4 separate regions of the Homo sapiens genome follow, and all the other regions are linked to region 1. Evidence: fine-mapped expression QTL. A gene starts in region 1. Each other region holds a variant in brackets. All regions are shown on one strand. Distances are from middle to middle. Region 1 holds the start of CASTOR2 (cytosolic arginine sensor for mTORC1 subunit 2). Region 2 overlaps GTF2I (general transcription factor IIi). Region 3 has its middle 37 kb from the start of RCC1L. Region 4 overlaps CASTOR2 (cytosolic arginine sensor for mTORC1 subunit 2).

What was found. PIP is the estimated chance that this variant, and not a neighbour inherited with it, causes the effect.
Region 2: its variant is the best candidate, but not a certain one, in a credible set for the expression of CASTOR2 in whole blood (INTERVAL, PIP 0.52).
Region 3: its variant is the best candidate, but not a certain one, in a credible set for the expression of CASTOR2 in whole blood (INTERVAL, PIP 0.66).
Region 4: its variant is the best candidate, but not a certain one, in a credible set for the expression of CASTOR2 in tibial nerve (GTEx, PIP 0.83).

The regions. Positions count from the first base shown.
Region 1 is chr7:74,963,582-74,966,264 of GRCh38, reverse strand. CASTOR2 (cytosolic arginine sensor for mTORC1 subunit 2) reads right to left here and starts at 1,560. Exons shown (of 9, transcript NM_001145064.3): 1 at 1,167-1,560. The coding sequence starts at 1,279. RefSeq lists a silencer at 1,713-1,822.
Region 2 is chr7:74,681,671-74,684,353 of GRCh38, reverse strand. The region is part of intron 1 of GTF2I (general transcription factor IIi); the gene reads right to left. Among named protein-coding and RNA genes, the nearest start is that of GTF2I, 25 kb to the right of the region's middle. The variant T/C (reference allele first, on the strand shown) is at 1,066.
Region 3 is chr7:75,035,060-75,037,742 of GRCh38, reverse strand. It overlaps a transcript of RCC1L not described here. Among named protein-coding and RNA genes, the nearest start is that of RCC1L, 37 kb to the left of the region's middle. The variant G/AAG (reference allele first, on the strand shown) is at 1,627.
Region 4 is chr7:75,020,018-75,022,700 of GRCh38, reverse strand. CASTOR2 (cytosolic arginine sensor for mTORC1 subunit 2) reads right to left here. Exons shown (of 9, transcript NM_001145064.3): 6 at 2,552-2,662; 7 at 745-827. Among named protein-coding and RNA genes, the nearest start is that of RCC1L, 52 kb to the left of the region's middle. The variant C/T (reference allele first, on the strand shown) is at 1,206.

The DNA.
Region 1 (2,683 bases):
CAGATAACAGGCTGGAATTATTTCCCTGTGTCCCTAGAGCTCAGTGCCAAAGGGGGCAGCCTAAGGGGGCTGTCATTTTCACGCTAACCTTGACCCGAAAAGTATTCATTCATTTTGCAGTGAGGGAGAGCCACCACCGCCCCAAACCGCGAAAAACCAACCAGTAACAACTTTATCATTCCTTTTTAACAGTCACAATGGTGGGCAAATGAGACTTAAGTTACAGCAGCTAGCTGGCACTCACACTCCCCTCGGCTCAGGCTCCTTAAACAACAACAACAAAACCCTAATGCAAGCACCCACCGGGGCTCACAATGTCAAACCCTTACCTGGCATAGGGAAAATCCAAGTGAGAGAGAGAGAGAGAGAGAGAGAGAGAGAGTGTGTGTGTGTGTGTGTGTGTGTGTGTGTGTGATTCCCTCTTTTACCTTCCAAGGCCTTCAACTATTTTTCCCCCTGCAGCATCCAAGCCCAGCCTCAAGGCAGATGCATAAACATGCCTGCTCCTCCCCTTCTACGGTTGGGCAAAACACCCCCCCACCCCCTTTCCAGGACCCCAAGGAGAAAGAATCACGTCCTCTGCAGCCCCTCCCTGGCCCTCGCCCACCCCCCGTTTCCCCCCCGCAATTCCAGGCCGTCCGCAGCAAGCCTCGTAGGCACCTTGAGATAAACACCCACTAATGATTTTATGATTTTCTGCTCTGGGTAACCGCGCTCAGCGGAATCCCTCCCCCCGCCGTGGCGACGGGGCCGGCCCAACCGAGGGATGGGGGGATGGGGGCGTTTGTTTTTTCCACGGCCTCGTCCCCACACCTGTTTTTCATTCATTCATTCGTTCGTTCCTTCATCCATTCACGGATCCGTCACTGCAGCCGCCCCAGCCCCCCGGATTTCGGGGAGGGGGCTGCGATGGGGGAGGGGGTGGGAGATGGGGGGGACGACAGAGGTGGGGGGTGGCGCACCGGGGGGTGGAAGGTTGCGAGGGGTCCGGGAGCCAGGACCCTGCGGCTCCGGCTTTGTCAGACGCGAGCGAAGCGGCGGCGGGGGCGGGGCGGGGGCGCTCCCGGGGCCCGAAGTTGTTTTCCGAGGCGCGGCGGCGAGGACAGCGGCCCGGGGTGCGCCCCCTTTGTCTGTCCCCGGCCGGCGCCGCGTCCCCGCGCGCTTACCTGGTCTTGGAGGACAGGAAGGCAAGTTTGATCAGGCCGTAGGTGAACAGCGGGATACTCTCCTTGGCGACGCTGGCAACTTGCAGCCGGTGCTCCAGGATGTGGAGTTCCATCGTCCGCCCGCGCCCCGTCCGCGGCGGCTCATCCGCGGGGGGACGAGCCGCGGCCCCCGCCCCCTCCGCGCCCTGCCGGCACCGACAGCCGGCCCGGAGACCCGGGAGCTCGGCGCCGGGCGCGGGGGGCGGCGGCGGCCGGGCCGGGCCGGACAAAAGGGAGGAGGCCCGCCAAGTTGCAAGGGGGAGCCGCGGGGCGAGGGAGGCAGCGCCGGCGGAGCAGCAGCCGAGGGGCCGAGCGGCGGAGCAGCGGCGCGCGGCGCCCGGCGCGGGGAGCAGCTGGTGTTCGCTGTAACAAACAACTTGCCACTCAAACGCCGGTCCCCGCTGCGCATGCGCGGCCCGCGCGCGGCCTGCCGGGACTTGTAGTCCGCCTGGGGGGGGGCTCCCCCGGTGCTGTTGCTGCTGTTGCTGCCGCGGGGGCTGGGCGGCCGGAGCTACCGGCAGCCCGGTGCACGGGAAATGCAGGAGCGCGGGCACCCTCAGGACTAAGGGGAAGGCCGAGGGGAGGCACGGGGCGGGTGGAGCCAGCCTGAGCCTAGGCGCGCCCTCTGGCACCCAGTCAGGCTCGGTACTAGGTGCTTGGAGTGTAAAGCGAGCAAACCAGACGACTCCGGTGCTGGAGAAGGCCCGAGTCTGGGAGCGCCAAGATGTAGGGCAATCGGTCATGAGAGTGCAGAGAAGCCAAACCGAAAAGCTTGCTGGGGACCCGGAGGGAGGGGATTGACAGGTCAAAGGGGGTGACCCGGGGGAGGGGACACTCAGGCTGGGTTTTGAAGGATGAATGGGAGTTCGTAGCAAGAGAGTGAGGGCGCGCGGATGGAGGACAGAGGCCTTCCAGGCTGCAGGAACAGCGTGTCCTAGGGCACAGAAGCGTGAAAGCCCCCACGGTGCTGTGTTTGGCTTTGTTGCAGCGGAAAATGTGAGGGAGGAGAGAAAAGAGATAAGGCAGGCATAGTCACCAGGAGTCAGGTCGGGAGGGTCATGTGTGCAGAGCTAATGAGGTGGCCATTTATCCCACTGGAGAGGGGGTGATGGGGACTGCGAAGGGTGAATTCGGGGAAAATGTAAAGTGCGTCTGAGGCACTTCCAACCCCAGGGCCCACGCGCCGGGACCACAGAGGTTCCTCCTTCATGGCTGTCTGGTTTTGAAATGTTCTGGGTTAAAGTGATTGGTGCTTCCACCTTTGGCAGAGTAATCTGGGGACGCGATGGGTGAGATCTATCTGCCAGGGCAGGCTGAGAACTCTCTTTCAGGGGAAAATTGCAGTTGTGCTCCCTCACCTTCCCTCAGCCCTCCTCTGTTAGGTAGGAACATACTAGGTTTTGTCATTTCCACAAAAGGGTGAAAAGCCTGTAATCTGTGGTAGATAGATCTTAGAGCATGCATATCCCCCTCCCACT
Region 2 (2,683 bases), 280 kb after region 1:
CTCGCTGCGTGCCCCTGGGGGCTGTACTCAGTTGCCTCGTCCATAAATGGAAATGCTCAATCCCTTTTATGAATACCCTCAACTTAAAATAAGAAGGGTTGGAAAAAGAAATGAACATTTATTGAATATATGTCATGCTTTATTGGCCATCTTGTATAATAAGCACAGCAACCCTGGGTGGGAGAGCAGGCAACATGGACTACACATGGACCCCAGGAAAAGCTCCTTGATGGAGGTGGTGCTCCAGAAGCCACCTGAGCCAGGCCCATGGAGTCTTTTCCTGGTTGACTTTACTTTCTGATGTCACCAGCAATGAACCACAAATCACAAGGATATGACCTCTCCTATCTGTCATGACACATCAAAACTCAGAGGTCTCCCAGTAAAAGAGGCCGTGGAAGAAAAAAAAAATTAAACCAGGTAAAATGAGGACATTTTGCTCTGTGCTCATAAGGAATGCAACTAGGTACGAGTTTTTAAGTTTTTTTTTTCTTTGGTGGGGGGAAGGAGTCTCGCTCTGTTGCCCCGGCTGGAGTGCAGTGGCACGATCCTGGCTCACTGAAATCTCCAGCTCCTGGGTGCGAGTAATTCTCCTGCCTCTGCCTCCCGAGTAGCTGGGATGACAGGCGCCCGCCACCACACCCGGGTAATTTTTGTATTTTTAGTAGAGATGGGGTTTCACCACATTGGGCAGGCTGGTCTTGAGCTCCTGACCTCAGGTGATCTGCCCGCTTCAGCCTCCCAAAGTGCTGAGATTACAGGCGTGAGCCACCGCACCCGGCCTAATTCTGTATTTTTAGATGCAACACTATTTTTGCTTAATTTAATTTTCCTTTAGATGTAACCACGTATTTATGACATAATTTGCTCATTCTTTTGTGTTCCTGCTGTCCTCTGGTGACAAACTGTTTTTGTTTGCTAAAAAATTTTTCTTGAAAGGTATTTTCGCTGGAATAGAAACCTAGGTTGACAATTATATTCTTTCAGCACACTAAGGTTATTTCATTATCTGTTGGTGTCATTATATTTTGGCTTCCACTGTCGCTATTGAGAAGTAATCTACGG[T/C]CTCTTTTTAGGTGATTCCCATTCCTACTCCTGCTGTTTTTAAGAGGTTTTCTTTGTCTAAGATGTTTTCTACAGTTTCACTGTGTATTCTAGGTGTAGATTTTATTTTTATTAAACATATGTCTGTCATTCATGGGCTTAACTATGAAATGGTATCCTTCGATGTGGAAAACTCTAAGCTATTGTCTCTTTAGATTCTGCCCCATTCTCTATCTCCTATCCTACTGGGACTCACATTAATGTATGTTAGTCATCACTTTATCCTTTTAGCTTCTTACCTTTTTTTACGTTTTCTTCTCCATACTAAACAATTATTTCTTCTGGCTTACCTTCCATTTCACTAACTCCTTCTTCATCTTTTTATTCTGTTGTTAAAACACCTATCCGGTTTTTAATTTTGTTTGTAATTTTCATTTCTATGATTTCTAGTTACTGCTAAGTCATATTTTATAGTTTCCTACTCTCTAAGGAATTTCAAGATTGTCATATTTCTTTGGTAATGGGGCAGTTATTTTATAGTCTCTGATAATTCCAAATCTCAAGTTTTTGCAGGACTATTTCTGTTGTTCCCAGTGGTTCTTACCCTTATGCATGGTTCTTATTCCCTTCTATGCCTAATTATCTTAGTGAGTTAGTTATTTTACGTGAAAAAATTACTTATAATCTTAAGCCTAGGGTGAAGGCAGCTTCCTCCAGGTGTCAAGAGACAACACCTGCCTAGAATCACTCTAATCCAAGTTCGAGACTTGGTTCCTTGGCCCACCCAGTAGAAGTTAACCCAGGCCACAAGTAAGGATGCAGACTATTCTGAGTCTCTCACCCCACAAAGCTTTTAAAACTCAAGGTCAAGTGGTGAAATGTTTGCCTTCAGGACAAGAGTAATTCTCACTTCTGTCAATTGAGTTCCCATAACCCAGCCCTTCAAATTTTCTCTACTTTTCAACTTTCTGGTGTTTTCACAAAAGTTTTGTTTTATAATTTTACAACAGTGTTGGTTGTTTTCAGTAAGAATAACTAACCTCACCAACTCTGGGAACCATACCTTCCATATCCTTTATTCTCAAGAACAATTTATGAATTAGCCAGAACTACTTTAGATTGCGAGGTTACCAATTCCCAATTCAAACAAGATCAAGTACAAAAGAGAACTTTTATTGCTTCATTTAATTAATTAAGTCTAAAGGTTATACTGGCTCCACATATAGCTAGATCCAAAACCACAAAATAAGTCATTAGAATTCTCTCAGCTTAAGCAGAAGGGTGTCCTCCCTAAGGCAGACCTGACAGCCACATGCACCTTCATGCGTACCACATTCCTGTCCTGTGATCCCAGAGGCAGAGAACTATCACATCCTCCCATTACTTTTTTTTTTTTTTTGAGACGGAGTCTCACTTATCGCCCAGGTTGGAGTGCAGTAACACAATCTCAACTCACTGCAACCTCCACCTCCTGGGTTCAAGTGATTCTCCTGCCTCAGCCTCCCGAGTAGCTGGGATTACAGGCGTGCACCACCACGTCTGACTAATTTTTGTATTTTTAGTAGAGACAGGATTTTGCCATGTTGGCCAGGCTGGTCTCGAACTTCTGATCTCAGTTGATCCGTCTGCTTTGGGCTCC
Region 3 (2,683 bases), 71 kb before region 1:
GGTCAGGAGTTGAAGACCAGTCTGACCAGTCTGAGACTGGTGAAACCCCATCTGTACTAAAACTACAAAAATTAGCTGGGTGTGATGGCACGTGCCTGTAGTCCCAGCTACTTGGGAGGCTGAGGCAGGAGAATTGCTGGAATCCAGGAAGCGGAGGTTGCAGTGAGCCAAGATTGAGCCACTGCACTCCAGCCTGGGAGACAGACCGAGACTCCGTCTCCCAAAAAAAAAAAAAAAAAGATATAAACCATGGCCAGGGGTGGTGGTAGCTCACGCCTGTAATCCCAGCACTTTGGGAGGCCGAGGCGGACGGATCACCTGAGGTCAGGAGTTCAAGACCAGCTTGGCCAACATGGTGAAACACCGTCTCTACTTTTTAAAAATACAAAAATTAGCTGGGTATGTTGGCACATGCCTGTAATCCCAGCTGCTTGGGAGGCTGAGGCAGGAGAATCGCTTGAACCAGGGAGGCAGAGTTTGCAGTGAGTCGAGATCACACCACGGCACTCCAGCCGGGGTGACAGATTGAGACTCTGTCTCAATAAATAAATAAATACGTAAATAAATAAATGGATAAACCTAGATACTGTTGTCACCTCCAACCAGGAGGCACTTGTTTTTCCGGAGAAACATCTTACTCTTGCTCTGGTAGCAAGTGGCAGCTGAATCCCAGGAGGCCAGAGTGGAGCACATGAAGTCACGCCAGTCGGAAGGATGCCCCGTTTGAGTTCCCTCCTTGGGGCCTCAGACTGGATAGGCTCAGGCTAACGGTGGTAGCTGGTTCCACAACTCCAGCAGTTGATGTGCATTCCAGGAGGAAAATTACATATATATATTTTTGAGACAGAGTCTCACTCTGTCACCAAGGCTGGAATGCAGTGGTGCGATCTCAGCTCACTGCAAGCTCTGCCTTTTGGGTGGTTCAAGTGATTCTCCTGCCTCAGCCTCCCGAATAGCTGGGACTACAGACGTGCACCACCAACTCCAGCTAATTTTTGTCTTAATATTTTTAGTAGAGACGGGGTTTCACCATGTTGGCCAGGCTGGTCTCAAACTCCTGGCTTCATGTAATCCGCCCACCTCGGCCTCCCAAAGTGCTGGGATTACAGGCGTGAGCTACCGCACCTGGCCCCGGGAGAAAAATATTGAAGATGAAGAAGATGATTGATAAACCACGTGCTCCTCAGCACGTACTGTATGCCAGGAGCTGCAGATGGGGTGGTGAGAAGGATGCCTGCTTTCAAGGGTGTGTGTCTTGTGGCTGGTCTGCCACCTGCCCTGCAGAGCAGCCAAGGCAATGATGTTCATAAGAGGGACTTTGGGCAGGGTGTGGTGGCTCACGCCTGTAAATCTCAGCACTTTGGGAGGCTAAGCGGGCAGGTCACCTGAGGTCGGGAGTTCGAGACCAGCCTGACCAACATGGACATGGAGAAACCCCGTCTCTACTAAAAATACAAAATTAGCCGGGCATGGTGGCACATGCCTGTAATCCCAGCTACCCGGGAGGCTGAGGCAGGAGAATTGCTTGAACCCGGGAGGCAGAGGTTGCAGTGAGCCAAGATTACACCATTGCACTCCAGCTTGGGAAACGAGCAAAACTCCATCTCAAAAAAAAAAAAAAAAAAA[G/AAG]AGTGACTTTGGGATTCCTTGGAGCAGATTCTACCCCTCAAACCTGGGGTTCTCATTCTCAACCCTGCTTGTACAACACTATACCATAGAATCATCTGGAAACTTTTAGTTTTTGAGACGGTCTTGCTCTGTTGCCCAGGCTGGAGTACAGTGGTGCGATCATAGCTCCTTGCGGCCTTGAACTCCTGAGCTCAAGCAATCCTCCTGTCTCAGCCTCCTAAGTGGCTGGGATTACAGGCACGCAAGCCATGCCCGGCTAATTTTTAAAATTTTTTGTAGAGATGGGGGGACCTCACTGTGTTGCCCAGGGTGGTATTGAACTCCTGGGCTCAAATGATTCTCTTGCCTCAGCCTTCCAAAGTGTTGGGATTACAGGCATGAGCCACCTCGCCCAGGCTTTTTTTTTTTAATATATAATATAACATTTTGCATATTTATTCATCAGTTGCTGGACATTTGGGTTGGTTTCACTTTTTGACCATTATAAATAATGTCAAAACATTCATGTATAAGTTTCACATTGGCCCAGCGTTTTGTTTCTGGAATGTTTTTGTGTGAACATAAGTTTTCAATTTTCATGGATGTATACCTAGGAGTGGAGTTGCTGCTCATTCATTTAATTTTTTTGAGTTTTGACATTTGCGTCATTTAATCTACAACACACTCTGTAAATTCCAAGATACTGAATATTTATTTCCCTGCATACAACTTGGGCTGTTCCTTGCAGGCTCATGGCAGGCTTTCTGCCTGCTTTTCTTGTGTTTCTGCTGCTAAAGTAGGGACCCAGGCCGGGCGCGGTGGCTCATGCCTGTAATCCCAGTACTTTGGGAGGCCGAGGCGGGCGGATCACTTGAGGTCATGAGTTCGAGACCAGCCTGGCCAATATGGCAAAACCCCATCTCTACTAAAAATATAAAAATTAGCTGGGTGTGGCAGTGTGTGCCTATAGTCCTAGCTACTGGGGAGGCTGAGGCACGAGAATCACTTGAAACTGGGAGTTGGGGGCTGCAGTGAGCTTGGATTGCTCCACTGCACTCCAGCCTGGGTGACAGAGCGA
Region 4 (2,683 bases), 56 kb before region 1:
CAGCCTCCTGAGTAGCTGGGATTACAGGCGCACGCCACTGTGCCTGGCCAATTTTTTGTATTGTTAGTAGACATGGGGTTTCGTCATATTGGCCAGGCTGGTACTCCTGACCTCAGGTGATCCACCTGCATCGGCCTCCCAAAGACCTGGGATTACAGGCACGAGCTAACTCGCCCAGCCTCTTTTTTTATTTTTAGAGGCAAAGATTTGCTCTGTCACCCAGGTTGGAGTACAATGGCATGATCATGGCTCACTGTAGCCTTGAACTCTTAGGCTCAAGTAATCCTCCTGCCTCAGCCTCCTGAGTAGCTGGGATTACAGGCGCCAGCCACCATGCCCAGCTAATTTTAAAAATTTTGGTAGAGACAGGGCCTCGCTATGTTTCCCAGGCTGGTACAGAACTCCTGGGCTCAATGGATCTTTCCACCTCGGCCTCCCAAAGTGCTGGGATTACAAGCACGAGCCACCGCGCCCAGCTGCTTAATTTTCTAATAATAAGCAACATATTAAATTTCAAGAGGGGGCAAAATAAAAGCACTCCGATTGAAGCCTGCTCCGCACTTCCCCAAGAGGCCTGTGTACAGCTGCCACACACCAGTGAGCAACAGAAATTTCAGGCTCCCCAAGCCTCAGTCTCCCCATCTGTACCCCCCAGCAGGGGCCGAGTCACTGCGGACAACGTATGTGAATGGGCTCAGCAATGCCAGCTCCCTCAATTCCCCATGTAATCCCCCCAGGACTCACCAAACCCCAGGGGCTGTCCTCCAATCCGGACCATCTTCCAGAGCTCTCCGGATGCGCTTGTGAACAGCAAGTTACTAGGAAACCTTCAAAAGGAGCGAGAGAAGAATCCCCGAGGCTGATGTGAATTGCACTCCCTCCTTGGTGTGCTGGTGCACCAGCCAGAGCGAGGCATGGGGCTGGCCAGGCAGGGTTGGGCAGACCTCAGGGCCCCCCAAAAACAATCCCTTCCAGACACCCTGGACCCATTCGCCCGGCGGCCTCCTCGTCTTGAGGGGAGGCGGATGGGGAGGGTGATGTCAGGCTGGGCTTTGTAACAAGCCCCTCCCCAAACCCTTGCTAAGGCTGGTCTAGACACCTCTTCCCAGGTCCAGAGCACAAGCTGAGGGAGAAATAGCACCGGGGCTGCGGTTCAAATCCCCACTTTGCCACCACCCCACAGTGGACCTCGGACAACCCCTGCA[C/T]CTCTCTGAGCTGGGGGACCAGCTTACTTATGATGAAGTGCTATGGTGAGGGTTTATTAGAGACAAAGTGGCAGGGCGTGGTGGCTCACACCCGTAATCCCAGCACTTTGGGAGGCCGAGACTGGCAGATCACATGCAGTCAGGAGTTGGAGACCAGCCTGGTCAGCATGGCGAAGCCCCATCTCTACGAAAAATACAAAAATTGGCCAGGTGCGGTGGCTCACGCCGGTAATCCCAGCACTTTGGGAGGCCAAAGTGGGTGAATCACTTGAGGTCAGGAGTTCACGAGCAGCCTGGCCAACATGGCAAAACCCTGTCTCTACAAAAAATACAAAAATAAACAGGGTATGGTGGTGTGCGCCTGTAGTTCCAGCTACTCGGGAGGCTGAGGCAGGAGAATCACTTGAACCTGGGAGGTGGAGGTTGCAGTGAGCTGAGATCGCGCCACTGCACTCCAGCCTGGGCAACAGAGTGAGACCCTGTCTCAAAAAGTAAATAAATATTAAAAAAAAATAAAATAAAAATACAAAAATTAGCCAGGTGTGGTGGCAGGCACCTGTAGTCCCAACTATTCAGGAGGCTGAGACATGTGGATCACTTGAACCTGGGAGGCAGAGGTGGCAGTGAGCCAAGACTGCACCACTGCACTCCAGCATGGGTGACAGAGAGAGATCCTGTCTCAACAAAAATAAAAATAAAAAAAATCAGGCTGGTTGCGGTGGCTCATGCCAGTAATCCCAGCACTTTGGGAGGCCGGGGCGGGCAGATCACAAGGTCAGGAGATCCAGACCATCTTGGCTAACATGGTGAAACCTGGTCTCTACTAAAAATACAAAAAATTAGCCAGGCGTGGTGGCGGCGCCTGTAGTCCCAGCTACTTGGGAGGCTGAGGCAGGAGAATGGCATGAACCCGGGAGGTGGAGCTTGCAGTGAGCCGAGATAGTGCCACTGCACTCCAGCCTGGGCGACAGAGCGAGACTCCGTCTAAAAAAAAAAAAAAAAAAATCACGCCTGAGGCGGGCGGATTGCCTGAGGTCAGGAGCTTGAGACCAGCCTCACCAACATGGCAAAACCCTGTCTTTACTAAAAATACAAAAATTAGCTGGGCATGGTGGCACATGCCTGTAGTCCCAGCTGAGGCAGGAGAATTGCTTGAACCTGAGAGGTGGAGGTTGCCTTGAGCCGAGATCGCACCACTGCACCCCAGCCTGGGCGACAGAGCGAGACCCCGTATCAAAAAAAAACAACAACAAATAAAAGACAAAGTGGGTGATGTGCCATCACATAGTCCCCCCAGACCCTGGGGCCCACCCTGGGTTGAACGTCCACCCCAGGGCCTGGCTCACCTCTGCTGCGTCTGCACGTCCATCACCAGGGAGATGTAGCCCTCGATGAGGGAGAAGGAGAAGAAGCGGATGTGGCCGCAGTCATCCCCAGTGGCCATGGGGTCCTTCACTCTGGGGACCAGAGGCAGCTGG